Homo sapiens: one gene and its partners. The protein of the gene in region 2 interacts with the protein of the main gene of each other region in a pairwise test. Each region holds a gene or a part of one and is shown on either strand. Other genes may lie near its edges.

Evidence for each region.
Region 1: the proteins of NEMP1 (region 2) and SERP2 interact in binary tests that used the Homo sapiens proteins (3 or more experiments, as listed by UniProt).
Region 3: the proteins of NEMP1 (region 2) and UPK1B interact in binary tests that used the Homo sapiens proteins (3 or more experiments, as listed by UniProt).
Region 4: the proteins of NEMP1 (region 2) and TSPAN33 interact in binary tests that used the Homo sapiens proteins (3 or more experiments, as listed by UniProt).

What each region holds. Positions count from the first base shown.
Region 1 is NC_000013.11:44,369,441-44,376,823, reverse strand, and holds the start of SERP2 (stress-associated endoplasmic reticulum protein 2), read right to left. Parts: upstream 3,001-7,383; 5' UTR 2,799-3,000; coding exon 2,715-2,798; intron 1-2,714. UniProt on the Homo sapiens protein: Interacts with target proteins during their translocation into the lumen of the endoplasmic reticulum. Protects unfolded target proteins against degradation during ER stress. May facilitate glycosylation of target proteins after termination of ER stress.
Region 2 is NC_000012.12:57,075,783-57,083,030, forward strand, and holds the start of NEMP1 (nuclear envelope integral membrane protein 1 isoform a precursor), read right to left. Parts: upstream 3,010-7,248; 5' UTR 2,964-3,009; coding exon 2,837-2,963; intron 1-2,836. UniProt on the Homo sapiens protein: Together with EMD, contributes to nuclear envelope stiffness in germ cells. Required for female fertility. Essential for normal erythropoiesis. Required for efficient nuclear envelope opening and enucleation during the late stages of erythroblast maturation.
Region 3 is NC_000003.12:119,183,585-119,190,609, reverse strand, and holds part of UPK1B (uroplakin-1b), read right to left. Parts: intron 3,897-7,025; 5' UTR 3,869-3,896; coding exon 3,800-3,868; intron 2,836-3,799; coding exon 2,635-2,835; intron 366-2,634; coding exon 291-365; intron 1-290. UniProt on the Homo sapiens protein: Component of the asymmetric unit membrane (AUM); a highly specialized biomembrane elaborated by terminally differentiated urothelial cells.
Region 4 is NC_000007.14:129,154,690-129,161,714, reverse strand, and holds part of TSPAN33 (tetraspanin-33), read right to left. Parts: intron 37-7,025; coding exon 1-36. UniProt on the Homo sapiens protein: Part of TspanC8 subgroup, composed of 6 members that interact with the transmembrane metalloprotease ADAM10.

The DNA of each region.
Region 1 (7,383 bases), on a different chromosome or scaffold from region 2:
TGTATAATCACAAAATGATTATTCCATTTCTCTGTTTCCTTTTTTTTTTTAGACGGAGTCTTGCTCTGTCACCCAGACTGGAGTGCGGTGGCGTGATCTCGGCTGACTGCAACCTCTGCCTCCCGGGTTCAAGCCATTCTCATGCCTCAGCCTCCTGAGTAGCTGGGATTACAGGCGCCCACCACCATGCCTGGCTAATTTTTGTATTTTTAGTAGATACGGGGTTGTGCCATGTTGGCCAGGCTGGTTTCGAACTCCTGACCTCAGGTGATCCATCCGCCTTGGCCTCCGAAAGTGCTGAGATTACAGAAAGTGCTGAGCCACCACGCCCGGCCTTGTTTCTTGGATTAGTCTGCTATCTGGGAGAATAATATTAATTTATCCGTAAGCTATTAGCTAATAATAAAATACTGAAGCATCTGCATACAATTAAAGAAGTTTATTTCTGAACAATTAGTCTGAATTTTCAGTTGGAATCTATACTTGTTCCCATTTAATGAATTTCATCCTGAATAGTGATCTTTTGCAAGTTACTTTTAACAAAGTATAATCATATTTGACTTGTAATTGAGAACATGAGATTTAGGATTTATCAAGTTTCTCTTTGAAAGAAAATTTCATTTTTCTATTGGATAGTAATCTATTTACAATAACATTAACCAAAATCCCCCCAACCAATGCAAAGCAAACATTGATTGTGGCTTGGTCTGGAAACCTTTCATTACAAATTTAGCTGGGCCATTTAAAAACTCTTATAGGTGCAAGGCACTATGAGAGTTTCTTGGGGGCCACCCCATGACATATCAGAGCATATTAAAATGAACTCATACTGTACATTAAATATAATTTAAATGTAGCTCTGAACATTGAGTTGAATGGCAGGTGACTGGTACCTTTTCTAGGTATTTAAACAATGTTTTCCCAATTTTTCCATTTTCTTCTTTTATTTTGGAGCTAATAATTTTTGTTTTGGGTCCCAAACATTTTCTAGTTTTCTTGAAGAACTTGAGGTGGCAGACACTGAGTCTACAGAACCTAATAGATACAACAGCCTTAGAAATTAGTTCTTGTTTTCTTCTTACTTTTGTAATCAGATAAGCTGTCAACTGAGATCTGACAACTGAACTCCGGTTTTTTAGTTCATGAAAAAGAGCCACATGACTAGTTATTTTTCACTGTGTCAGTTAGCAGGTCTGATCCCTTGAGAAGGAAGAATTGATCTCTTAGGGATATAAAACCCTGCATGCCTTAACATCAATTATAAGTTGCTTCTCAATGTCAACCCGGGCAGCCATTTTTTTTTCCTCAGTAAAAATAGGGAAAACATAAATCAATGTGACAAAATGGTTCCAATTTGATGGCATCTTGGCATTTTGCTGCCTAATCACAACTGAGTGATATAATTCCTAAATGAGAGAATTTTAAGGATTACTTAGGTCTTGTGTATAAAGCTCTGAGTAGAGTTGAGTTATGCTTAGACTTGTGTATAAAGCTCTGAGTAGAGTTGAGTTTGGTCCTAGAGTTTCTCTGCCGTAATACTGCTTGGTTTTGCAAGAATTCTGGTGTGATGATTACAGATCTAGCTTTTTGCTTAGTTAATCAAACCAATATAGTTTCTTTGGCTAAAAGGAATTGATTCATCAAATCTGCAAGCTTTCCCAGCCAAACTCCAGGCTTCAGCTGGATTTCCACTTAACTGTACGGGGTAACAGATCCCAGGCGCCTTTGCTCATATACTTGGAGACCAACTTCGCCAAACTACCCATGCGACTCATGCCTCTGAATGTCCAAAGTCACAGGCCTCGCATTTTCTGTTGATGATAATCTGCTTTGCTAAAAGAAACTCCTGAGTGTAAGGCACAGGTTTTACTTAAAAGTCCAGTTGCAAAGCTTGAATTTACAGTTCTAGGGACACCGAATGCCTGACAATAAACTGGTCTCTAAAGTTATACCATGAGAATGAGTCTGAATTCACCAAGTGGAAAGAATAGGAATGCTGCCCTTAGACTTTAGCCTAGGGGCTGAGGGAGGTCTCGCTGGAAGAGAGGTAAAAGAGAAAAAAGAGGCTGGAGGGAATGTGGGTCCAAATCTCACTCCCCATTTTGAGCTCTTTCCACACCTCCAGTGAAACCGTCACAAAGGGGCTGGAAAGAAAACTTGATCCTGGTGCAAGTCTGTTGGGGAGGGAAGACAGGTGGAGTCCGGGAGGAGATGACAAGTGGCCTCCATTTAGCCATTGATTCATTCATTCATTCAACAAACGTTCTAGAACATACTAGGTTCCAGGCTCTGTGTCATGCAACGTTCTAGAACATACTAGGTTCCAGGCTCTGTGTCATGCAGTTGACTTAACTGGCCCCTAAGGATGAGGCTTTCCGTCTTTCTCCGGGACAAGGCCCAGCTGTCTCCCGGGCAGGGGGACAGGGGGTGCGGGTCGGGGAGGAGGGCTCCTCTGCGCCTCCCTGGTAGCCCAGGTAGCCACTCCCAGAGGGGCCACGACCAACCAGGGCCCTCTCCGCCCACGAGGACGCCAAGCAGACCGCGCCGCCCTGAACCCAGCTCTCAGCCCCCACTCTGCAGGACCCCGCAGAAGGGGCGGGCCGGGAGCCGGGAGGCCGGACCCTGCGCCGCTACCCGCCCGGCCCCGCCCCCACCTTCCGCCCCACCCCGCCGGGCTGCAGGGCTCTGCCTGGCCGGCGCCGACCCCGCCTTACCAGGGTTTTGGCTACGTTCCCCCTCTGGGTGATGTTTTTGCTGTGCTTCTCGTTAGCCATCCGGATCCGCTGTTTGGCCACCATGGCTTGTGCGCTCTGAAATGCTCCCACCTGCAAGGATTCCCCCTGCGTTAGCTCCTGCGACAGGGCCGAGCGCGTCCCGCCGAGGCCCCCGCGGCCCACCCGGGCGCTGCAGGTGGCAAGGCGTGGCCCCGAGCCCTGCGCACCCCGCTCCCCGAGCCCCGGCTAGCCGACTCCAGAGAGAGGCCGCAGCCCGGACGGAAGTAATCTCTCATCTCAGGAAACCCTTTCCGACTTCCTCGCCATCCTTCCGGTCCCCGCAGCCACCTACCCCGCGCGGCCACCGAGGCAGGCGCGACCGCACGTCCTCCCGCGCCGAGCGGCCGGAGCGCAGCGCGCAGAGCCGGGGCCCTGCAGTGTCGCGGTCCTGTAGCCGAATGCTGCGGGGCCGAAGGTTCGGGCGACCACGGCGTTTGTGAGCGCGTCGGGGACGGGGACGCGGCCCCTCCTGTGTTTGTCGGCCGGTGACCCACCCCAGCCCCGGGGAAGGGATGAGGGCGGCCGCGCTTCAGGCCGGGCCGCGCGGTCTCCCCTGCACCGCCGCCCCCTGGACGAGGGCTGGACCCAAGGCGGTGGTCAGGGACCTCAGAACACAAGTAGAACCAGTCCAGGCCCGGGCCCGCGCTGCCCGGGTATGGTCCACCAAACGAGCCTTCTCTTTAAGGGTCTCGAGAAGGGCCCCACGCTGGGGGACCCCACTGCAGAACTTTTCGTGAGGGCTGCAAGGAGGGCCGCGTTGTAAAATAAAGAGGAGACACGAAGCGGCATCCCCTGAGGGTTGGGGATCGGGCCGTGAGGATGGAGTTGGGACAGGCCTTTTTGCTTTGGTAGTTGTAGGGGTTGCATTGGAAGATGGGCCAGCGGCAGAGCGGAGCATGCAGGAAAGAGGAAGAGGCCTTGGACCTGCAGCCCAGGTCGGATTTGGTGGTTACTGTCTAAATCTGAAGCTTTGGCCTGCCTTGACTCCCCACCCACCCAGGGCAGCTTGGACCTCTCTCTAGCCACCCTTGTCCCGAGGGGTCTGAGTGTCTCCCAGACTAAACTGGGCATTTTCTGCAGTGGAAGGATAAAAATGGAAGCGTTTACGCGCCTCCCAGACACTGGTATTAGGGCTCAAGAGCTCTACAGATTGCCTGGGGAGGTAGGGGTGGAAGGGGTTCAGTTCCTCACTTGGAGTTAGCTCTTAGAAGCTCAGAAGAGTGGAGGCGAAGAGGGGACATTCAGCCTGGGAGATCTGGGGCAGCGGGAAGTGGGGATACCGGGTCGGGGTGAAGGCAAGCAGCAGCACCCCCAGCATGGGGAAGAAGGCCTGAGGCTGTCTCTGGCCACTGCATCTCTAGGCCTTCTCTTGGAGCGGGAGGTGGCTGGGTTTCCAGGGAATTTTGTGTGAGTAAAATTTTCCCATGTCATTGGAGAGTTAGGAAGAGCTCCTCTTTTGGGGCCTTTTTCCAAGCGGGTCCCCCTCACCCCGCTACAGGCTTCTTGTCACTCAGGCTTCAATAAAGGCCATTCTGGGGGCTGCTTGCTGTAACCTAGAAGACAGAATTGCCTAGGATCATTAGTAGAGTCATTTTTTTTTTTTCCTACTCTACAGGCCAATTAATTTGAAACAAGCTTCTATGGTCTTTTAACTGTTAGCATCACCACTGTTGTAACAGGACCATAAACCCAGTCTGCCCCACTCTAGTCCCATGTTTTTAATAACTGTTGGCTCTTTTTTAGGGGTTTGGGTGGGGGGATTCCTACCTCAGTGATCCCTGCTGAGCCTGGCTGTTGTCTGTGGTCCAGAAGGTTCCTTTACCTGACTCACTCCTCTCAGATCATGTCCAAATACCAGGAGACTGACCCAGGTCCTCACCAGGTGAGTAGAGGTCTGGCTCTGAGCGACATTAAGGAAAAGACACAGACAGAGACTGTTTTCTCTTTGGGTCTTCACATTCAGTGAGTACAGTTCAGAAGTGTTCTTAACTGAGAGAAGCCCCTTTTGGGGAAAATTTTTCTTTACTGTTGACTCCTTTTTCCTGCTATGCTTCACTTTTCCGGCATTTTAAATTAGTTTGTTTTAATTATGAGTAGACTACATCTACACAGTAAATAGTCAAACAGAAATAGGATAGAAAATGAAAAGTAAAGGTCTCTCTTTCCTTGCCACCCTCCCCAAAAAGTTCCCACGGTTCCTGGGTTGCCCTTCCAGTATATACAAGACTATTTGTATATTCCCTTCTAAAAAAAAACGGAATAGTAGTATGCAAACTGTTCTGCCACGTGCTCTTCTAACTTAATATATCAACATTATCATATCACTTATATATGACCTCTTTCTTGTAGTTGTGTTATGTCTCATAGTATGATTATACAGTAATATATTGAACTGATGTAACCATGGATGATTATTTCCAGTTTTTCTTTTTTTGTGGTTGCCAACAATGCTTCAGTGAATATCCCTGTACATAGATCAGTGTGTACTTGTGCAGGTATATCTGCGTGTGATATTGTGAAATATATATTTGATTGTAGTCCCTGTTTCCTGACCTAAAACTCTTAAATTCCTTGGACTCTCCAGAGTGATGAAAATATCTTACCTTTTGTATGCTAATGAGATGGTTGGTGACTTGGAGACCCTAGATAGCTTCAGGATGGGGACTGGTCACCAGAAAGATCAAGGCAGGATTAGAGGGTTGGGACTTTTAGTCCCACCCTGTCCCCCCAGACCTCCACAGAGAGGAGAGGGGCTGAAAGTTAAGTTGATCACCAGTGACCAATGATGTAATCAATCAGACATATGCAATGAAGCCTGTATAAAAGCCCAAAGGATAGGGTTTGTTGAGTTCTGGAGAGCAGAACATCAGGTTCCTAGAGGGTGGCGTGCTCAGAGAGGATATGGAAGCGCCACAGCCCTTCCCACATTTCTTGCCCTGTGCATCTCTTCCATCTCACTGTTCATCTATATGCTTTGTAATATCCTTCCTCATAAATGAGCAAACAGAAGTAAAGTGTTTCACTGAGTTCTGTGATCCACTCTAGCAGATTAGTCCAAACAAGGAGTGGGTTGGGGGAACTCCAGTTTATAGCTGGGCAGGCAGAGGTACAGGAGACAACCTACTACCTGGGATTGGCATCTGAAATGGGGGGCGGTCTCATAGGATCAAACCCTGAGCCCCTGCTATTTCCAGGTACATAGTGCCAGAATTGAATTGAATTAAAGGACACCCAGCCGGTGTCTGTTGCAGAATTGCTTGGTATGAGGGGAAACATCCCCCACACATCTAGTGTTAAAAGTGTGCTGGCTGTGTGAGAGTGGGAGACAACACTTTGGTTTCTCCTATATCACAACACTGGAATTAGATTCCTGGAAGTGAAATTGCTGCAACTTTTTATGTCCTTGGTTGGATGAAGAAACCTCGTGCTGTGACCTCCACTTTACCTGCTCACACCCCTGCTTTTGTCCTCTGCAGTCAGGCCAGCTCCTCTGCAGGTCTCAGTCCTGTTTATTGCCTTGAGGATCACCATCATGGACCAAGCAGTTTCCCAGCATGGATCCTGGCCCTTCTTATACTCAGCCTCCAGACCCTTATGTGGGGAGCTGGGGCTAAAGTCTATAAGCTGTGTTCCTGGAGTTCCAGAGTCACTACTAGACTACGAAGGAGCAAAGCATGGAGTCGTCTTGCTCTTTCGAGGACTTAGGAGGGGAAAATGGAAACTTGATTAAGGAGAACTTCTCCTGGGTTCATCTATGGTGGCAGCATGGAGTTTTGTAATATACCACTAGCATGCAGTGCTCAACCACAACTTTTAAAATTGTTATGGGCAAAGTGCCAGGAAACTGCTAACTGGTTAAAATTTAATTTTGGCTGGTAAAATTTTCAGCCTTTATTTTTATTTTTGAGACAGAGTCTCACTCTGTCGCCCAGGTAGGGGTGCAGTGGCGCAATCTTGGCTCACTGCAACCTCTGCCTCCCGGGTTCAAGTGATCCTCCTGCCTTAGCCTCCTGAGTAGCTGGGATTACAGGCATGCACCACCACGCCTGGCTTTTTATATTTTTAGCAGAGACGGGGTTTCACCATATTGGCCAGGGTGGTCTTGAATTCCTGTCCTCAAGTGATCTGCCCACCTCAGCCTCCCAAAATGCAGGGATTACAGGTGTGAGCCACCATGCCCAGCCAATTTTCAGCCTTTAGAGCAAGAAATCCTAACAAGCCTATGCCCATTAATCATAAATCTGCCCCACTTAGGGCACTGGATGTGTGGCTGTACAGACTGAGTTTTACCCATCTTTATAAATGATGCTACACTACTAAACTGTGATGCATTGGACATCTCTCATTTTTCTGTGGCTGACCAGCATGCAAACATTCTTTATATTTGGGGCACTCCATCACTGTGAGAGTCTTAGGACCTTCTTTCCCACCGTGGAGCATAAGGGGGCCACATACTTGGTCTCCCAACCCCTCACAGCTAGGGTGGCGTGTGATCTGGCCAATGAGATTCTCCTTTTGGGAACTGTGAATCTTGATCAAGTGGTGCAAAGACAGAGACACGTTAAAATTCATCTTGGTGGTCGAGTTTCTAGAGACTGGTAGTACCTAG
Region 2 (7,248 bases):
ATGGCGAAATCCCACTCTACTAAAAATACAAAAAAATTACCCGGGCATGGTGGCACACACCTGTAATCCCAGCACTTTGGGAGGCTGAGGCGGGCAGATCACTTGAGGTCAGGAGTTTGAGACCAGCCTGGCCAACATGGCGAAATCCCACTCTACTAAAAATACAAAAAAATTACCCGGGCATGGTGGCACACACCTGTAATCCCAGCTACTCGGGAGGGTGAGGTAGGAGAATCGCTTGAACCTAGGTGGCCGAGATGGCACCACTGCACTCCAGCCTGGGCAACAGAGCAAGACTCCATCTCAAAAAAATAAATAAATAAATAAATAAAAATGTATACACAAAGATGTTCACAAACTTACAACAATGAAAAACTAGAAATACCACAAATATCCAACCAACAGTACAAACCACCAATATCCAACCAAATGTTTAATCCACAACATTAATAATGATTTTTACCAGGCAGATGGCACGTGCCTGTAGTCCCAGCTACTTGGGGAGACCGAGGTGGGAAGTTACAGTGAGCTATGATTGTGCACTGCACTCTAGCCTGGGTGTCACAGCAAAACCACGTCACTAAAAAATAATAAATGAAGGCCAGGCATGGTGGCTCACGCCTGTAATCCCAGTACTTTGGTAGGCTGAGGCGGGCGGAACACCTGAGGTCAGGAGTTCGAGACCAACCTAGCCAACATGGTGAAACCCCATCTCTACTAAAAATACAAAATTAGCTGAGTGTGGCTGGGCGTGGTGGCTCACGCCTGTAATCCCAGCACTTTGGGAGGCTGAGGTGGGCAGATCACGAGGTCAGGAGTTTGAGACCAGCCTGGCCAGCCTGGTGAAACCCCGTCTGTACAAAAAATACAAAAAGTTAGCCAGGCATGGTGGCATGCGCCTATAATCCCAGCTACTCGGGAGGCAGAGGGAGAAGTGCTTGAACTCTGGAGGCTGAGGTTGCAGTGAGCCTAGATAGTGCCATTGCACTCCAGCCTAGGCAACGAGGGCGAAACTCTGTCTCAAAAAAAAAAAAATTAGCCGAGTGTGGTGGCACATGCCTGTAGTCCCAGCTACTTGGGAGGCTGAGATGGGAGAATGGCTTGAAACAGGAACCGAGATTGCACCACTGCACTCCAGCCTGGGCCAGACAGCAAGACTACATTCTGCGGGGCGGGGCGGGCGGGGGGTGGAGAAAAAAAATTAAATGAACATCTGCACATACATTGGAATGTAATACAAGTAAGACAACATTTACAAAGAATTTTAAGGCCGGGTGTGGAGGCTCATGCCTGTAATCCCAGCACTTTGGGAGGCCGAGGCGGGCGGATCACGAGGTCAGGAGATCAAGACCATCCTGGCTAACACGGTGAAACCCCCTCTCTACTAAAAATACAAAAAATTAGCCGGGCGTGGTGGTGGGCGCCTGTAGTCCCAGCTACTCGGGAGGCTGAGGCAGGAGAATGGCGTGAACCTGGGAGGCGGAGCTTGCAGTGAGCCGAGATCTGGCCACTGCACTCCAGCCTGCGCGAAAGAGGGAGACTCTGTTTAAAAAAAAAAAAAAAAAATTAGCCGGGCGTGGTGGCGGGCAAGTGTAATCCCAGCTACTCAGGAGGCTGAGGCAGGAGAATCATTTAAACCCAGGAGGCGGAGGTTGCAGTGAGCTGAGATTGCACCACTGCACTCCAGCCTGGGCAACAAGAGCAAAACTCCATCTCAAACAAACAAACAAACAAAAAAACAAAAAAAGAATTTTAAATTACTTGGGAAAATTATTGTACTACAAAATCAAACGAGAAAACTATCTCTGGTAACGACTGGCAGCCTCCAGGGAAGAGAACTAGAGTACTAACTGGATACAAATTATCAATTCATAAAAAATTAAAAATATGTGGAAAAAGATCAGAAGAAAGTGTGCTAAAATAGATTGCTTCTGAATGGATTAACAGTGTGGTTTCTGCCTGCTTCTTTATACTTAATTGTACCTTGCCAAATCATCTAAAATAAACATGCATTATTTGGCCGGTCACGGTGGCTCACACCTGTAATCCCAGCACTTTGGGAGGGCCAAGGCGGATGGATCACGAGGTCAGGAGTTCGAGACCACCCTGGCCAACATAGTGAAACCCCATTTCTACTAAAAATACAAAAATTAGCCGGGCGCGGTGGCGGGTGCCTGTAATCCCAGCTACTCCGGAGGCTGAAGCAGGAGAATTGCTTGAACCCAGGAGGCGGAGGTTGCAGTGAGCGAGATCGCACCACTGCACTCCAGCCTGAGTGACAGAGCTAGACTCCATCTCGCGGGCCGGGGGCGGTAAGGAATCAAGGTTTTACAAGAGCAGAAGATAGTAGAGATCACTGCATTTCTGTCAACTACATCCGTTCTGCCACCCGTGCCCTGCGTCCTGACAGAGCATACGCTCAGATGGTGTTTGCTGATTTGCCGAATGAATGAGATGGTCCCTTTCCCGCGGCTGCTCTGCCTGCCCAGAATGGTCCCCAGGTTTTCTCGCTTTTAACCAAGAAACTCAAGGCTTCTGCAACGAGACACAGCCCCCAGGACTGCTTCTCAACCAGTCTAGGCCTCCCTTCCTGTCTCCGCCAAAAGGCTTCAGGCTCCTCCCCACTCTGGAAGCTGCCCCAGCCCGCTTCAGGGCCCAGACCCTCAGTCCCGACGCCCACTAGCCTGCCAAGTTTCTTCCACCACACTACGCCGGCGGCCCTCGGTAGAGCCACCGCCCTTCTGCAGAGTAACGGCCCGCGCCCTCGGGACAATCCCTTTTCCAAAAATAACCCCCTCGGCACCTGCCCCCTTGGCAGCTGCTGCCCGGGCGGTACCTGTGCCGTAGACCAAGCAGCCGGAGAGGATCAAGAGTAGCCGCACTGTCCCACCGCCCCCGACTCCCGAGCCCCAGGGCCCGGGACCAACTGCCGGCGAGACCGCCACTTTCATTCCTCCCGCCATGGTTGCCTCAAGCCACCTCCTCCTCACGTGCCTTACCCCAGCAACTAACTCCGAACGGGCAACGACAGCAGCCTATCCTCTACGAAACCCGCCCCTATCAACCAATGGGATGGGCAGGGCTTCGAGCACCCAGCCCTCCAAGGGCCCTATGAGTCCCGCCCCTTAGCAACTGAAGAGAGAGGGCGGGAAAAGCAGCTTTCAGCCTATTGGAAAATGGGTTCTCACCCTAGCAGTGGCGACAGGAAGATCCCACCCCGCTAACAACATGCTTCCGTCTTCAGTTTATTTACAACTGGTGTGATTGATGGTAAGTTTAACCAATAGAAAATCGGAATGGGAGAGGCCTCCTTGACCAAACTCGGTATTTCCATAGAAGCTGTCTGAAGTTCCTTCCGTTTTCTTTCGGTTACTTTTTATCACGACCTTTCTGTTATGAGACGCCTACAATTGAGATCGCTTTATGAGTAGGACCCTGATAGGACGATTTTTAAAGTCGACTGACAAAAGTGTGGTTCTCCAAAGTCCTAAAGGATTTAAAATAGAAGTCACAAAAAAGTGTGTGTCAATATTTTATAAGCATAAACATTAGCTTTTAAAAATGTATTCATAGGATTTTTATTTTTGGAAGTAAAATTAATGTTAGGATTAAGAAAGATTCATTTATTCCTCTTATCATCTTGTGAGACAAATATAATTCTCTCCATTTAAGAAGCCAAAGCCAAGACAGCCACAGGAACCTGCCCAAGATTTCATAGTTCATCTGGTCTGTGATCCCAACCTAAATCCTACTGACTCCAAAGCCGGAGTTATTTATATGGATTAGCTGCTTCCCATTCAATGATTTAACACAGGGCCCAGCAGAGATCCAGGTGTTCAGAAACTGTTAGTAGAAATTGAAACTTTTTTTTTAAGAGGATCTGATGGTGATGGGTAGGAAAACTACAGATGATAGAGCCAAATGAATTGAGGAATTCAAGGAAGGGGGCATCTCCTGGGGAAGGTTCAAGCTTTCAAAACAAGAATTTTTTTTTTTAATGTTTTTAGAGACAGGGTCATTCTCTGACACCCAAGCTGGAGTGCAACAGCACCATCACAGCTCAGTGTAACCTTGAATTCCTGGACTTAAACCATCTTCCCACCTCAGCTTCCTAGATAGGTTGGGCTACAGGGATGCACCACCATGCCCAGCTATTTGTTTGTTTCATTGTTGTTGTTGTTGTTGTTGTTGTTATTGAGACAAGGTCTCCTTCTGTAACCCTTCTGGAATGCAGTGGTGTAACCACAGCTCACTGCAGCCTCGAACTCCCAGGATCAAATGATCCTCCCACTTCAATCTCCCAAGTAGCTGGGACTACAGGCATGAGCCACTATGTCTGGCTTAATTTTTTTTAATTACTTTTTGTAGAGACAATATCTTGCTATGTTGCCCAGGCTGACCTCAAACTCCTGGCCTCAAGTGATTATCCCACCTTGGCCTCCCAAATTACTGAAATTACAGGAGTAAGCTACTGCACCTGGTCTAAAACAAGGACCTTTTTAAAAGTCAAAATGGGCCGGGCATGGTGGCTCAGGTCTGTAATCCTAACACTTTGGGAGTCCGAGGCGGGTGGATCAACTGAGGTCAGGAGTTCGAGACCAGCCTGGCCAACATGGCAAAACCCCGTCTCTACTAAAAATACAAAAATTAGCCAGGCATGGTGGTAGGTGGCTGTAAGCCCAGCTACTCAGGAGGCTGAGGCAGGAGAATCCCTTGAACCCAGGAGGCGGAGGCTGCAGTGAGCCAAGATCGCCCCATTGCACTCCAGACTGGGTGACAGAGCAAGACTCTGTCTCAAAAGAGAAAAAAAAAAAAAGTCAAAATGGGCTGGGCATGGTGGCTCATGCCTGTAATCCCAGCACTTTTGGGAGGTTGAGGTGGGAGGATCACTTGAGGCCAGAAGTTCGAGACCAGCCTGGCCAACACAGCAAAACCCTATCTCTAATAAAAATACAAAAATTAGCCCAGCATGGTGGCAGGTTCCTGTAATCCCAGCTACTTAGGAGTCTGAGACAGAAGAATTGCTTGAGCCCAGGAGGCAGAGGTTGCAGTGAGCCGAGATCATGCCACTTCACTCCAGCCTGGGTGACAGAGCGAGCCTCTCTTGTCTCAAAAAAAAAAAAAAAAAGTCAAAATGGGGCTGAGCTATGGGCAAGAGAAGAGATTTCATTCTCAGAAGGAAAAGTCTAGGCCAACAGTGCTGATATGGTCATCCTGTATTTCACACACACACTCCCTCAGCTGACCTAGGGAAGTCAGCATCAATCATGTTGATACTATGTACCCTTGATAACATGAGATGAAAATGGCATTTTAACTCTGTGGTTTTCCTTCCCAAAACCCATAACACCACTCTAATCTTGAGAAAAACATTAGACAAATTCCAATAGAGGCATCCTACAAAATACCTGACCAGTACTCCTCAAAGCTGTCAAAGTCATCCAAACATCATTATGGGCTTTTTTGTTTTTGTTTTTTGAGACAGAGTTTCACTCTTGTTGAGCAGGCTGGAGTGCAATGGCACAAACTTGGCTCACCGCAACCTCCCCCTCCCAGGTTCAAGCGATTCTCCTGCCTCAGCCTCCCAAGTAGCTGGGATTACAGGTGTGTGCCACCCCGCCCAGCTAATTTCATATTTTTAGTAGAGATGGGGTTTCTCCATGTTGGTCAAGCTGGTCTTGAACTCCCGACCTCAGGTGATTTGCCCGCCTCGGCCTCCCGAAGTGCTGGGATTACAGGCATGAGCCACCATGCCCAGCCCATTATGTTTTTGAGAACTAAACATAATGTGGTGGTCTAGATGGGATCCTGGAACAGAAAAACACATTAGTTTAAAAAAACGAGGCTGGGCACGGTGGCTCATGCCTGTAATCCCAGCACTTTGGGAGGCTGAGGCGGGCGGATCATGAGGTCAGGAGATGGAGACCATCCTGGCTAACATGGTGAAACCCCGTCTCTACTAAAAATAAAAAAAATTAGTCGGGCGTGGTGGCAGGTACCTGTAGTCCCAGCTACTCAGGAGGCTGAGGCAGGAGAGTGGTGTGAACCTGGGAGGCGGAACTTGCAGTGAGCTGAGATCGCTCCACTGCACTCCAGCCTGGGCGACAGAGCAAGACTCCGTCTCAAAAAATAAGAAAACAAAAAAAAACACGGAGGCTGAGCATGGTGGCTCACGCCTGTAATCCCAGCACTTTGGGAGGCCAAGGCGGGCGAATCACGAGATCAGGAGTTCAAGACCAGCCTGGCCACCATAGTGAAACCCCGTCTCTACTAAAAATACAAAAATTAGCTGGGCGTATGGCGGGCACCTGTAAACCCAGCTACTCAGGAGGCTGAGGCAGGAGAATCACTTGAACCTGGGAGGCGGAGGTTGCAGCAGTGAGCCAAGATCAGTGCCACTGCACTCCAGCCCGGTGACAGAGTAAGACTCAGTCTAAACAACAACAACAACAACAAAAACTCAAAGGAAATCTGAATAAACTGTAGACTTTAGTTAATAATAATGTTTCAATACTGTTTCATTAATGGTGCTAAATGTACCATACTAATGTCAGATAATAATTGAGGAAATTGAATGTAGGGTATATAGGAATTCACCATATTATCTTTTCAATTTTTCTGTACATGTAATGTTTCTAAAAATAAAGTTGGCTAGCCTCAGTGGTTCACACCTGTGATCCCAGCACTTTAGGAGACCGGGTCTGAGGATGGCTTGAGCCCAGGAATTCAAGACCAGCCTGGGCAACATAGTAGGACTCTGTCTTTACAAAAATACAAAAATTAGCCAAGTGTGTTGGCACGTGCCTGTAGTCCCAGCTGCTCAGGAGGCTGAGATGGGACGATCACTTGAGTCTGGGAGGTTGAGCCTGCAGTGAGCCATGATCATGCCTCTGCACTCCACCCTGGGTGACAGAGTAAGACCTTGTTGCTAAAAAAATGAATAAATTGGGCAGGTGCAGTGGCTCATGCCTGTAATCCCAATGTCTTGGGAGGCCGAGGCAGGTGGATCACTTGAGCCTAGGAGTTTGAGACCAGCCTGGGCAACATAGTGAAACCCCGTCTCTACAAAGAATACAAAAAAAAAAAAAATTAGCCAGGTGTGGTGGCATGCACCTGTGGTCCCAGCTACTTGGGAGGTTGACGTGGGAGAATCACCTGAGCCTGGGAAGTCAAGACTGCAATGAGCTGTGATTGCACCACTGTGCAGCCTAGGTGACAGAGTGAGACCCTGTCTCAAAATAAATAAAT
Region 3 (7,025 bases), on a different chromosome or scaffold from region 2:
AAACTTGGGCCCTGGGAGTCAGGCCATCTGGGTTCAGAATTCTTGCTCTTTCAGTTGCCAACTATGTCACTTTAGACAAGTCATTTTACCTTTCTGTCTCATTTTTTTTCCTTTCTCAAATGACCAGAGTGATAATGCCTATTTCATAGATTTATGAGGATTAAGTAAAATGATAGATGTATTATTACTGTGCATATTGGATTGCCTGGGCACATAGTAAGGGGTTAATACATGTTGGTTGTTATAATAATGATAATTCATATTATTTTGCTTTTTGAGGTTGTACTCACAAAGTCTTGTTGTGTTGCTGCTGTGATACAAGATGCCACTTCAAAGGCATATACTATAAACATCAGAATGAAATACTGGAAGGGAAATAAATGAGATAAAAGAATTACATTTACCCGTCAAAGAGCGACTTGCCCAAATAATTATGTTTTTTCAGCAAATTTATCATATAATCATGTAATCACTCATGTAGTTATTCAACAAACCCTCATTGACCAGTGGCTTGGATTGAGGCTTGGTGCTAGTCAGCTCAATTCTCTCCTTTTCTCCAGAGAACAAATAGCCATTGAATACAGACCTTCCTCAGTCCAGTTTCCTGAGTTTCTATTTTAACTGGGAAAAACAAGTACAAGAGAATGAACTGGTGTGTATGTGTGCACACACACATGTGAGCATTTACATGCTCATTTACATGTGTGCATTTACATGCATGTGCATGCTCAGTGAGTGGCAAGAGAGTCTTAGTGTATCACATACAGTATAGGGCCTCATAAATCCCCTTTAATTTTGGAATTTTGGAGAAATTTTCTTTACAATTTGCTGAAAATTTAGAATCACGGAGTTCAGAAAAAGATGAACTGGATAATGTTGAACATCTAGGGTCCTTCCTAACAAGCATCCAGTCTCATCAGAGGAGAGGCAGGCTTCAAGTGCACAGCATTTGTGGGTGTTCTTTCACACGCACCCACACTCAAAGTACATTGGTTCAGTTGAGTGAAATGGCATTTGCTGTGTGTGGTAGTGGTGGTGTGTGTGCGTGAGCATGGGCACATGGGTGCGTGTGCACATGATACCTCCACATGACAGTGATGCTATTTCTGGCTGGAAAATATCCGAACAGCAAATGACCTCTGAATCTGGGATGGGGACTGTTTGCAAGAGTTCCAGCTTTGCCTTCCCCAGGCTTGCACACACTCTTGGGAGAAGGGGCACTGTGGTCAGTGTCAGCAGGGTAGGCAGGGAAAACTGTCCTCCTCTTTGGGTATGGGAGGCTCTCCGAGCAGGACCCTCTGTTGCCCTCACTACTCAGCCCAGAATAAAGCTCTGGCTACAGTCAACAGCAGGAGCACCTTCAGAGGCCCCAGAACATTTTTTTCCTGTGTTAGCTGCTGCCTTGCTCCTTGCCAAGAGCTTTGCTGGCTCCTGGTAAAGACGCTCCAGAAAGGAGGTATGCAGTGAGGTGTTTCCTCCTTTAGCCCCTTTGCCTCCCCAGCTCAGTTCTCCTGGTTGTCAGGCATGCACATGGCTGGCCCAAAGTGAGGCTGGGATGCAAGTGAATTTGTCTTTAGGAACACCTGTGTCTCCTCTCCCTTTTTCCTGTATTCCTTTCCCCACCCACCAAAAGTGGGTACTTTTGCCCTGGAACTTACGCACACTAAGGAACCAGAGAATGTAAATGTTCTGTAATCCATTGGAACCAGGACAGTGGTTAGTTAAAAGGAAGAGTAAACTAACAAGCACCTTACATTGCTGGACTCATTCTATAAAGGGGGAACTGAGGTCCTGCAGCATTTGAATAAAAGGGTTATTTCAGGGGTGGGGGATTGGAGGCGTGTTCCATAATAGTGTGAAACTGCTGCCCTAAGTATTAGGGCAGACAGTAGGGGTCCACGTCTGAAACAGGTTTCTCAGCTCTGCTGCCTGCAAATTTGCTTTCATCTGCAAAGGCAGGGCATGGTCTTGCTGTCTATGGTTTGGGGCAGAAGCCTCTCCTTGATGTACAGAGTTAAAGCCCCCACAGGCAGGTGTGAGCTGAAGGCTCACTCTACAGTGGTGCTTATCAAGGTTTTCTGGGGTCCCTGAAAAGCAGATTGGATGATAATGTGGGGAGTATAGGCTATGATACAGAATCATCAACCTTGAGCTCAAAAATCTTTGAAAGCTTATACTTTCTTTTAAAAATGTATGCATATTTTATATTTTATATCCTAATATATTAATGCCTAATTAATATCAAAATGTTTTAAACAAGTTATTGCCAAGAGAAAAAAATCTAATGAATGAATTCTCACTGTGTCTCTCCTTTGGCCTATATAGCTCCTAGCTGTACCTACTGGGTGTATGCAGACACCAGCTGTAGAGGCACAATATGGAAAATACTCATTAGGTCACCCCCAGGTGTCTCCCCTTTGGCTTCTCTGTACTGGAGCCTTCTGGGCTTGCAATAGTGGAGGGCATCTTTGCCTCCATGTGGACCATTTCACTGCAGGGAAAGTCTTCCCCTCCTCACCCCTTATCTGGTACTTCCTGCTCCCCCACTGAAAGCCAAAGCATTGCTCAGTGAAGAAGAAAGAATCCATTACAATTGGCTCAGGGAGACAACTCCAGAGAATTTTGAGGTCTTACCGCCAGAAGAATTTTCCTGCTGGACTTCATGATGCCTACAATGCCTAGAACAGACAGGCAGAAGAGGCAGATGCCCACAAATATGCCGATCCAGGCAGCCCCATAGATGTCATCGTTGTCGGTGGCTTCAAGCAGTGGGTAGAGGCTGTGTTGGTCAGATACAAAGAAGATGCACTCCGCAGTCAGGGCAATGCCGCAACACTGGGGGCAAATGAAAGGTGGGCTCCATCAGGAGTGCAGCTTTGGGAAAGGGGGTGGAGGGTGGGGAAGGTAAGAGTGACTGGCTCCCTTTCCTGCACAGGCTTTATGCAACTAATCTAAACTCCCCATTGCCAGGAAATCAAACAACTACTTCCATCCTACTAACTGGTTGCATACATCCCTTCACATGTTATTCTGTCTATTTAGTAACAGACCCACACAATTTCAGACCATCCACAATGTCCTTGGGGCATGAATCACTCAAACAATGCTTTCTGGTATGAGAATGATCTCCCCCTGCCCCCATGTCATGACCCACATTTCTGGGTTGTAATATTTGAGCTGGTCCTGGTCATATTTATCAATGACAGCTGAGAGGAACCTTGCTGCTTATCTTTGCCAACACCCACATTTTATAGATGAGGAATCTCAGCCTTGAAAGGTGATGGCCAGAGTCATATGGGGAGTCAGAGGGAGAGCTGGGCCAAGAGCTCTGGACTCCAAAACAAATGTTCTTCTATGCCACCAGACCCACACAGTATGGCCTCTGTATTATTCTTACACCCTGGTACTGGCCTCTGTATGAGAAGAACAAGATGCAAGCATCTGTCCCAAAAAACCTTAACAGCAGAGTCCCATGGAAATCAAACCAAGGTGACATAGAAAAGAAATAGTGAAGTGTGTTCGTAGTCAGAGTGTTTAGACACTGACTATGGTTGACATGACTCCTTTTAGATACTTATATTTTAAAGTTGGGAGGAAAATATCTACTTTTTCAACCATGATCTTTTGACATACAGTTAAATTCTAGCTAGCATATTTACTAACACATTTCTTAAAATGAAGCAAAAATATAGGAAGCCAGTAATCACAGCATTATTTTCCTTTAAACTCTTACTTTTGATTCATCTAGAATTATGATTACAGGAAGTGCAGAATTTCCTGGAAAATAATCATTACTTACACCAATAATCACATTTCCAAAAATCAGCAGGCCCTGGAAGCAACGAACAGTTGAGTTGTCTTTGGCCATCTTCGGGATTTCCCACAAGCTGAAGGCACTGTTGAAAGCATTACCAAATAACTGCTACAGTTTCTGTAACATGAGTAAACCAAGCCATTGCGTATTGCCTCCTTGTTCCCAAAGCATCCAAACCAAAGCCATATAATCTTTTAGCGATGAAGGACATTTGATTATTGAGCTTGGTAATCACATAACTTTTATAAAGAATGAAAAGAATATAGCCTTCCAGAGCCTGGTCAGTGCCTTTCAGGAGTTCTTTCAGGCAAGGAGTGTGCAGAATGCATCCTTCTGAGTGGTGGACTGAGCCCCGCAAGGTGGAATGCACAAGGGGTAGACCTGAGATGGTGATTGGGTAGGGCCAAACACACTGAGGGTCCCTGGCATAGCCCTCACTGCCCTTGGCCATGACAAATGGAAACCCAAAGGGTAAACTCATGGCCAGAGGTAGTGGTTGGTTCCCATGTGGACTGCAGGGTGCTTTTAAAAACTATCATTTTCTGACTCTTTTATTATCTTCAAAGAAATAGTTGGCAAATAAAAAAGTGCCCCGTTGTATATGAGGGTAAGTGAAAACGGGGACTAGAATTTACTTCCTTCTGCCAGGTGTGTGCCACTCTACCAGGTGCTTTGCATGCACGCATCTAATTCTCATAACCCAGTTCGGTAGCAAAAGAAGAAAGGCGAGGAGGCTCCATTTTGCAGATGAGGAAACTAAAGCTTAAATTTGTAAATTAAGTTCCCTGGGGTCACACAACCAGTAAGTGGCAGAGCTAGGCTAGAGACCTTGGTGTGTGTGACTCCAGAGTCCACGTGCTTCCCCACAGCCCACAGTGACTCCCAGAAACTATGTATAGACTTTGGTGCCATACACAGCTGAACATGGGTCTCTCACCTCCCTGAGGATTTTCTGGAAGGAACACAAAGGTAAGTGTGTGGGTCAATCACTTGGGCTTCTGCACTTGAAGCACCTTGAGAAAAGCCATCTACAGCTCTCAACATTTAATTAATCAATTCATGCATTCCTGCTGTAAATAAAAAATGTATTAAATGGTTCAATATGCATTCTGAGGCATACAAAGATATGTAAGGGAGATTATTGTATTCTAGGATTTTTTGCGTTAGTAGGGAAACTAAGATGCATTCCCACACAATTATACTACATGTAGTGAGATGAAATATTGTGAGAGTCCTGAGGCGGGAAGACGTAAGTCTTGCAGGATGTGTATGGTTTGATATGTAGAGTAGAGGTGGATATGTGTGGGAGTGAGGTGGGGGTGGGTGACATTCCAGGTAAAGAGAAAGGAAAAGTTAGGGAGTAGAGACAGAAGAGCAAGGTGCCCACAAGATAGCAAACCAGTCAATTTGGTCAAAGTCCTAGTTTTGTAGGGTAGCAGTGGGAGGCAAACCTTCTATTTGTCTCAAGCCTTGCTAAATTTTAACCTCATTGTTACACTGTAAGTATTAACAACCTTCCAAGTAAGTTTAGACATCTCTAAATGTTTTCCTTTATCTGTTTACCTGGGTAGCTGTGACAAGTTCAGTTAAAATTTATGAGCACTTTTAGCTCAGAATTTGGCACACAGTGGGTACTCAATTCATGTTTGCTGGAGAAATGGAAGAATCTGGGCCATTGCGTCTCTGTGTAGTTTCTGCTTAGAAATGCCATTCATTTCTTTCTGCTTAGAAATTTCATTCATTCTTTCCAGTTATTGTTGCGTGTTAGACTGCACAAACTCCCCCAAGGGGGAAACTTACTCATGTAGCTGGTTGAGTCACATTGTAAAGTTCATTACTGGTATGTACAGACATTATTCCTGACCAGTTGGGTTAGTATCTAAACTAGAGACAAAAGTAAATAGACTGTGAAACGTAGGAGTTCAGATAACAGAAGCATAGAGAGGAAAGGGCAGAAATCAGTAGAGGCCAAATTCAGCACCGATATCAACTCGTACTGATTATGTACTGTGTGAAATAAGACAATTTCTTCTTTCAAGAAGTTTATTTTTATTATTATTATTATTTTTTGAGACAGAGTCTTGCTCTGTTGCCCAGGCTGCAGTGCAGTGGCACGATCTTGGCTCACTGCAACCTCCGCCTCTCAGGTTCAAGCTATTGTCCTGCCTCAGCCTCCCTAGTAGCTGGGACTACAGGTGCCCACCGCCACACCTGGCTTTTTTTTTTTTTTTTGTATTTTTAGTAGAGATGGGGTTCCACCATATTGGCCAGGCTGGTCTCGAACTCCTGACCTTGTGATCTTCCTGCCTTGGCCTCCTAAAGTGCTGGGATTACAGGCGTGAGCCACTGCGCCTGGCCTCAAGGAGTTTAAAGTGCAATTACAGCGTGGGTTCAAAGGAAAAATGACCGTGCACATCAAGGGGACAAGGAGGGCTGTGGAGAAAGACAGAGGCACCGCTGAGGGGCTTTATTGGTCCAGAAAGGAACTGCAGGGGCCCCGATCAAGGGAGGTGGCCTGGGTGACCCAATTATGCCCCGTGACGTACAGACTTTTCCAGAGATGACTCTGCCACACAGAGTTTAGACAAAGGGGAAAGAGCAAATGAATATTCTATGGGAGAATTGCAGGAGTCACAATTAGGGTGGAAAACGCAGATAAAAGTGGGAGAAAAGAAGGAAGGTAGAAACTTGCTCTGAGCAAAAAGAAAAGCATAAATTGAAGAAACCTAGGCAAGGACATGACAGAAATGCCAGGGAGGCAGCCCAGCTGTGGGTTGGTTATTGGAAGGTGGTGATATGTCAGTGGGCAAGATATTCTGAATTTTCTGGCCACTAAAATGTTCTCCTTTTTCACTATGCATTCTCTTCTTCTCCCTTAGGCCTTTGGTATCAATGGCACATGATAATTTAGCTACTCCTGTCTTCCAAGATAAGGAAATAGTGATGAAAACTGCCATTTATTGGGCACTTACAATGCTCTGGGCACTATGTTAGGCATTTGATATTCATCTTCTCAACAGACCTGAGAGATGGGTTTTTCAGGTCTGCATTTCCTATTGCTGCTGAAACAAATTACCACGAACTTCGTGGCTTAAAATAACAGAAATGTATCTTACAGTTCTGGAGGGCAGAGGTCTAAAATGAGTCTCACCAGGCTAAAATCAGGGCTATGTTGCTTCTGAAGGATCTAGGGGGAGAAGCTGTTGTCTTG
Region 4 (7,025 bases), on a different chromosome or scaffold from region 2:
GTAGACACCCACAGCCACCATCACCATGGAAATCACCTGTGGAGACAGGAAAAGAGCCAGACCCTGAGATTCTGGAAACCAGAGAGCCCTGAATGCCATGAGAAACCTAGGAGAGCAGGAGAAGGACTGCTTTCCTGGGACCCAAAGGTGAGCATCTTTCACCTCCCCAGTGATTCTGCTGATAGAATCTGTCAGGGCTTTACCTCCATGAGACACTTTTACCCACATCATATTTTTCATTATTCATTCAGTGCTCGTAACACAATTAGGTTGTGAGGCAGACATTATGCCTATTTTACGGATGAGGAAATTAAGGCAATCCAAGGTTAATACTGAAGAGTGATTAAGAATATGGGCTTCAGGCTGGGCATTTTGGGAGGCCAAGGCAGGAGAATCAACTTGAGGTCAGGAGTTTGAGACCAGCCTGGGTAACATAGTGAGAGCTTGTCTCTAGACACACACACAAAATAATAATTAGCTGGGTGCAGTGGTGTGCACCTGTAGTCCCAGCTACTCAGCAGGCTGAGGCAGGAGGATGGTTTGAGCCCAGGAGTGCAAGGCTGCAGTGAGCCATGACTGTGCCATGGCACTGAAGCCTGGGTGCCAGAGTGAGGCCCCGTCTCTAATAAATTGAAGTTAAAATTAAAAAGGACACAGTCTTCAGAGCGAGTCAAACTTGGGTACACATAGGGCAAATTTCTGAGCCTCAGTTTCTGTATCTGAAGATGGGAAGTAAGAACAAACAACTGACAAGATTACTGTAAGAACCAACTAAAATAATGCATGGAAATAATTTAACACAATGCCTGACAATAAATATTATCTATCATTATTAATAGTTAACTTGCCCAGGGTCACACATAAATGGAAAAGTTTTGAATTCGAATCTATCTGCATCAAAGGACAGGTTTTATACCTAAAGCAGGCCTGGGCGGTTGCATACTCCCAGCTCTCTAACCCTCTTAGAGGTCAATATCATGTCAAGTACAAAAAGAAAGTGCACTCCAATGTGAAGGACTGTGTGTGAGTGCATGTATGTAAGCACTGGAACTGCCTTGGCAAAGGAACCTTTATCTTCACAAACTCTGATTCCAGTGTGGAGGAATAGAGAGGAGTTTAGATCTTTCAAATTTCCTGGCTTCTCCCTGAGAGAACAAACCCATCAGAGACTAATAGGAGACCCCAAAGAGGCCTTATCTACCCCCTAGCCCCCAGGCCTCCAGGGGTGCAGGAGAGCCCCAGTGCCTACTTCCCTTGGCCACCCTTTTTTTGTGCCCAGTCTCCAGGCTGGTGCTAAGCAGCAGCTGGCTGTTGCCATGGCAACAGATGGGGCCAAGCTCTGGCAGGAGAGAGTTCTCAGCAGCAGGGTCTTGACCAACTCAGTGGGGAAGGAGATGGCTGGCTAGACACCACTGTCCTGCAAGACGGAAAGCAGCTGGAAAGAGCCACCATGGGGCTTTGGTGGAAGAAGGGAGCTAGGCCCCCAGAACAGGTAATAGGGTCAGATGAGTCCCTCATTTTTCCCTGTAGGCCTCCTTGTTGAAGGTCCTCTGCCATCTGGCAGGGGAGGGCAGGTGCATTCAGCAGTAAATGGCAAACCTTTATCTAAAACCACGTCTTCCAGAACTCTTCTCTGCCTGTATATACAGCCCCCTCTTTTTTGCGGGGTGAGGGAGGAGGGTCTTGTGCTATTGCTTAAGCTGGAGTGCAGTGGCATGATAATAGCTCATTTCAGCCTTGACCTCCTGGGCTCAATTGATCCTCCCACCCTAGCCTCCCAAAGTGCTGGGATTACAGGTGTGAGTCACCACACTCAGCTGGCCCCGGTCTCTTCCCACCTCACATCATTTGACCATGCCTCTAACTCAGGGCCCAAAGTGTTATTTGCTGGCCTTCATACTCTTTGTCCAGGAGGGTGGGAGCTGCTAGCAGAGCTGCAGGTGCCAGCTGGCGCCTTGTCCCACAGCACTGCCAGGCTCACGGAGCATGGGGGAGGCAGGGAAACTACATGACAGAGATGCCAGTCATTCCCCAGGCCTGGTGGCCAGTCCTCCACCAGAGTCAGTGAGCATCTCTGTCTGCCCTTTAAAACCCACTGCAGCCAATTACAGTTCTGAGTGTCATTTTACTGAACTATTGAAAAATGTGTATCTGCTCTTGATTTCTGTTGCTTCCAGGCTCTCATTGTTTTTCATGTCAAATTTTCACCAGGGTGTATAATTTTCCACAAAGATGGTATCTGATTAAATCGTAGCACAGCTAAAACAAGAAAGGCCAAACAAGCACTACTCACAATAGCAAAGGCATGGAATCAACCTAAATGCCCACCAACAGTACGGGAAAAAGAAAATGTGGGGTCAGGCCAAACACGGTGGCTCACGCCTATAATCCCAGCACTTAGGCCAAAGCGGGTGGATCACGAGGTCAGGAGTTTGGGACCAGCCTGGCCAACATGGTGAAACCCCATCTCTACTAAAAATACAAAAATTAGCTGGACATGGTGGCACACACTTGTAGTCCCAGCTACTTGGGAGGCTGAGGCAGGAGAATCGCTTGAACCTGGGAGGCGGAGGTTGCAGTGAGCCGAGATCATGCCACTGCACTCCAGCCTGGGCAACAGAGTGAGACTTCATCTCTAAAAAAAAAGAAAGAAAAAGAAAATGTGGGGCCGGGTGCAGTGGCTCATGCCTGTAATCCCAGCACTTTGGGAGGCTGAGGCAGGTGGATCATGAGGTCAAGAGATTGAGACCATCCTGGCCAACATGGTGAAACCCCATCTCTACTAAAAATACAAAAATTAGCTGGGCATGGTGGCACATGCCTGTAGTCCCAGCTACTTAGGAGGCTGAGGCAGAAGAATCACTTGAACCCGGGAGGCGGAGGTTGCAGTGAGCTGAGAACGTGCCACTGCACTCCAGCCTAGCGACAGAGCAAGACTCTATATCAAAAGAAAAAAAAGAAAAGAAAATGTGGTACATATATACCATGGAATACTACGCAGCCATAAAAACGAATGAAATCATGTCCTTTGCAGCAACATGGATACAGCTGGAGGCCATTATCCTAAGCAGATTAATCCAGGAACAGAAAACCAAACTCCATGTGTTCTCACTTGTAAGTGGGAACTAAACATTGAGTACACATGGCCACATGTACTTTAGAGTGAAGGGTAGGAGGAAGGAGAGGACGGAAAACTACTTATGCTTATTACCTGGGTTATGAAATATCACCCCATGACACATAATTTACCTATATAACAAACCTGCACATGTACCTCTGAACCTAAAATAAAAGTTGAAAAAATGGGCAAAGTAAAGAGATGCCACATATCATAGAGTAAGTTAACTGTATTTATGGGCCTGTAATGACAGCAGTTGCTCTGTCTCTATCTATGGTGGAGAGAATAATGTCCCCTCAAAGATGTCCACGTCTTAATTGCTGGAACCTGTGATTGTGTTACTTTTCATGGCCAAAGGAACTTTGCAAATGTGATTAAGAATTTTGAGCTAGGGAAATTATCCCTGAGGACTCAGTATAATCATAAAAGACCTTCTAAGAAGGAGGCAAGAGGGCCAGAGTCAGAGAAGGAGACGGTGATGGAGGCAGAGGCTGGACTGCTGTGGTGCCACGGATGGAGGAATGAGGGCTGCCTCTAACAGCTGGAGCAGGCAAGGAGGCGAGCTCTTCCTAGCACTTCCCGAAGGAATGCGGGGCTGCTGTATTTTAGCCCAGCGAGATCTGTTTGATTTTAGCCCGGTGAAACCTGTTTTGGCCTTCTGGCCACCAGAAATATAAGAAAATTAATGTGTGTTGTTTTAAGCCACTAAGTTTGCGGTCATTTGTTACAGCAGCAACAGGAAACTAATACACTGTCCAGATCCAATTCATCTGCTGCTATGCAGATGGTACACTGAGGACCCTTAATCCATGCGTGGATATGGTGGAGGGACAAGAGCGTTTATAGCTGAAAGCACATGCTCAACTTTGGCTGCCATTAGAATCGCCTGGGACTTAGGGTTGTTGGGGGAGAGGCTTAAAAAACTGCTAATGCCTAGGCTGCATCCCAAACCAAGTCGATCAGAATCTTTGGCATTGGGACCTAGGCAACAGTATTTCTGAATGTGTTCCAGGTTATTTCAATGTGCAGCCAAGCTTGAGAACCTACAAGCCTAAAGAATAATCAGCCAGGGATCTAGAGCCACAGATACAGGCTACATTAAAATCAAGATTAAGTCTTTAATATTATTATTAATATTTAATATGATCACTAATGATATCTCTCCCCTAAGCTCTCAAATTCTGCATTTCACAGCTTGACCTTGCACACCCCCATTCCTGCCCCCACTTCCCACCCTGGATTCCTCAAAGCTACTGCCATTCCAAAGTTAGTGCTGCTGCTGCTGTTCATAGCATCACGTTTGGAGGTGAACAGAACCTTAGAAATGGGTTTTGGCCACTCACCTCTTTTTATAGATGAGGCCAAAAGAGCGGAAGTAACATTTAACCAAGTGCATATGGGTGCAGTGCACCATCTGGACCAAATCCAACCTCCCAATCTCATTCTGGAACTCTTTCCACTATGCTAGAATTTTCTGTAAAATCCTTATGGCACCTCACAATATCATGAATGACCTCCTTTCACGATGAGGATGGAGATAAAGACATTTCTCTTCTTTGGATAGCTTTTCACATTCCGACTAGAATGAAGCCTGGCTGGAAACTTCTAAGAGCTAGATACAACTTTTAAAATGGCTGAGTCTAGCTTTTAGCAAAATGTATGTTCCTGAAAAGTTGTCAGTCAAATTATATAAAATAATTTGCACACACCAGTACCATTATCCCTATGAAAGGTGAATGATCACCTTGTAATGAAAATAGCCATCCCCTGGGCTCCTTGGAGAAGTGGCTGATTCTAGGATGGGGGCAGGAAAGGCACGAGATGAGCCTAGAGCATCTTGTAGTGCCCCAAAGAAAGGAAATGCTCACGAAGAAACAAAAATGAATTCCCCACATCAGTATCCTCATCAATGTGAGCATCCCAAAGGGACACAGAAGCCAACTGAAAGAGCTCCCAATGGCCAAGGCTAGAACAATTTGAGCACCGAAATAAAGAAATATTGAATTATTACCCAAAATAAAAAATACACATCTGTGGGCCCATGCTGATATAAATAAGTGACTTAATGAATAGCAGAGAAAAGACAAATCTCCTACATAGAAGAATTTCAAATAATTCATGTAGGTACTCCATCCTCAAAGAGGTAGAGCTTAACTCCTTACTCCTTCAGTGCAGACTGTGCATAGTGACTTTCTTCCAAAGAGCACAGTGTGGAACATGGGGAGAAAGGCTAACTCTACAGCGGAGGAACCTGATAAACACTACTTCATCCAGGCGATCGAGGCCAACATCAACAATGATCATGTTGCTGAATCACTTGTATGATATGATATGATGTGATGTGATGAAAATGGCACTTGACTTCTCTGGTCTTCCTCCCAAAAGCCATAACCCCAGTATTACAATGATGAGTAAAACAGCAGGCAAGTTCCAATAAAGGGACATTCTACAAAATACCTGACCAGCACTTCCCAAAACTGTCAAGGTCATTAAAAACAAGGTAAGTCTAGGAAACTGTCACAGCCAAGAGGAACCTAAGGAGACATGACAACTAAATGTAATGTAGGGCAGGACATGGTGGGCCACGCCTGGAATCCCAGAACTTTGGGAGGTCGAGCGGGGAGGATGGTTTGAGCTCAGGAGTTTGAGACCAGCCTAGGCAACGTAGACCTCATCTCTACAAAAAATAAAAATAAAAATAAAAATAATCTGAGTATGGTGGTGCATGCCTGTAGTCCCAGCTACTTGGGAGGCTAAGGTGGGAGGAGGATCGCTTGACCCCAGGAGGTTGAGGCTGCAGTGAGCCATGATTGTGCCACTGCACTCCAGCCTGGGTGACACAGCAAGACCCTGTCTCAAAAAAAAGAAAGAAAAAAGTAATGTAGTATCTTGAATAGGATTCTGGAACAGAAGGATATTAAATAAAAATGAAAAAAAAAACCAATAAAGTGTAGACCATAATGATAATACTATTAATTACAACAAATGTATCATACTAATGTGTTAATAACAGGGAAAACAGAGTATGGGGTATATAGGAACTCTCAATACTATCTTAAAATGTTTTTAATTGATATATGTAAATTGTATGTATTTATGGGATACATATGATATTTTGATACATGTGTACAATGTTTAATGATCAAATCAGGGTATTTAGAACATCCACCACCTTGAACATTTATCATTTGTGTTAGAAGCCTTTTAAATTTATTTTGAAAAATACAATATATTGTTGTTAACTATAGTCACCCTACTGTGCTGTTGAACACTAGAACTTATTCCTTCTATGTGACCATATGTTTGTACCTATGAACCAGCCTCTTTTCATCCTCCTGCCCCTGGATCCCAGCCTCTGGTAACTCATTCTATTCTCTACCTCTATGAGTTTCACTTTTTTAGCCCTCAAATATGAGTGAGAACATGCAATATTTGTCTTTCTGTGCTCAGCTTATTCACTTAACATAATGACCTCCAATTCTGTCTATGTCACGAATGACAGGATTTCATGCTTTTTTATGGCTGAATAATATCCCATTATGTATATGAACCATATTTTCTGTATCCATTCATTTGTAGATGGACACTTAAGGTTATTCCATTTCTTGGCTATTGTGAATAGTGCTGCAGTAACATGGGAGTGCAGATGTCTCTTCAATATATTCATTTCTTTTTCTTTGGATAAACACTCAGTAGTGGGATTGCTGGATTGTCTAGTAGTTCTATTTTTTGTTTTTTGAGAAACGTCCATCTCTGTACTATCTTCTCAATTTTTCTGTAAAATTGTTCTTGAAAAATAGTCTATTACCTCCTCCCACCCCAATTTGTTAGTTTATACTTTTTATTTTATTTTTTGAGACAGAGTTTCGCTCTTGTTGCCCAGGCTGCAGTGCAATGGCGCGATCTC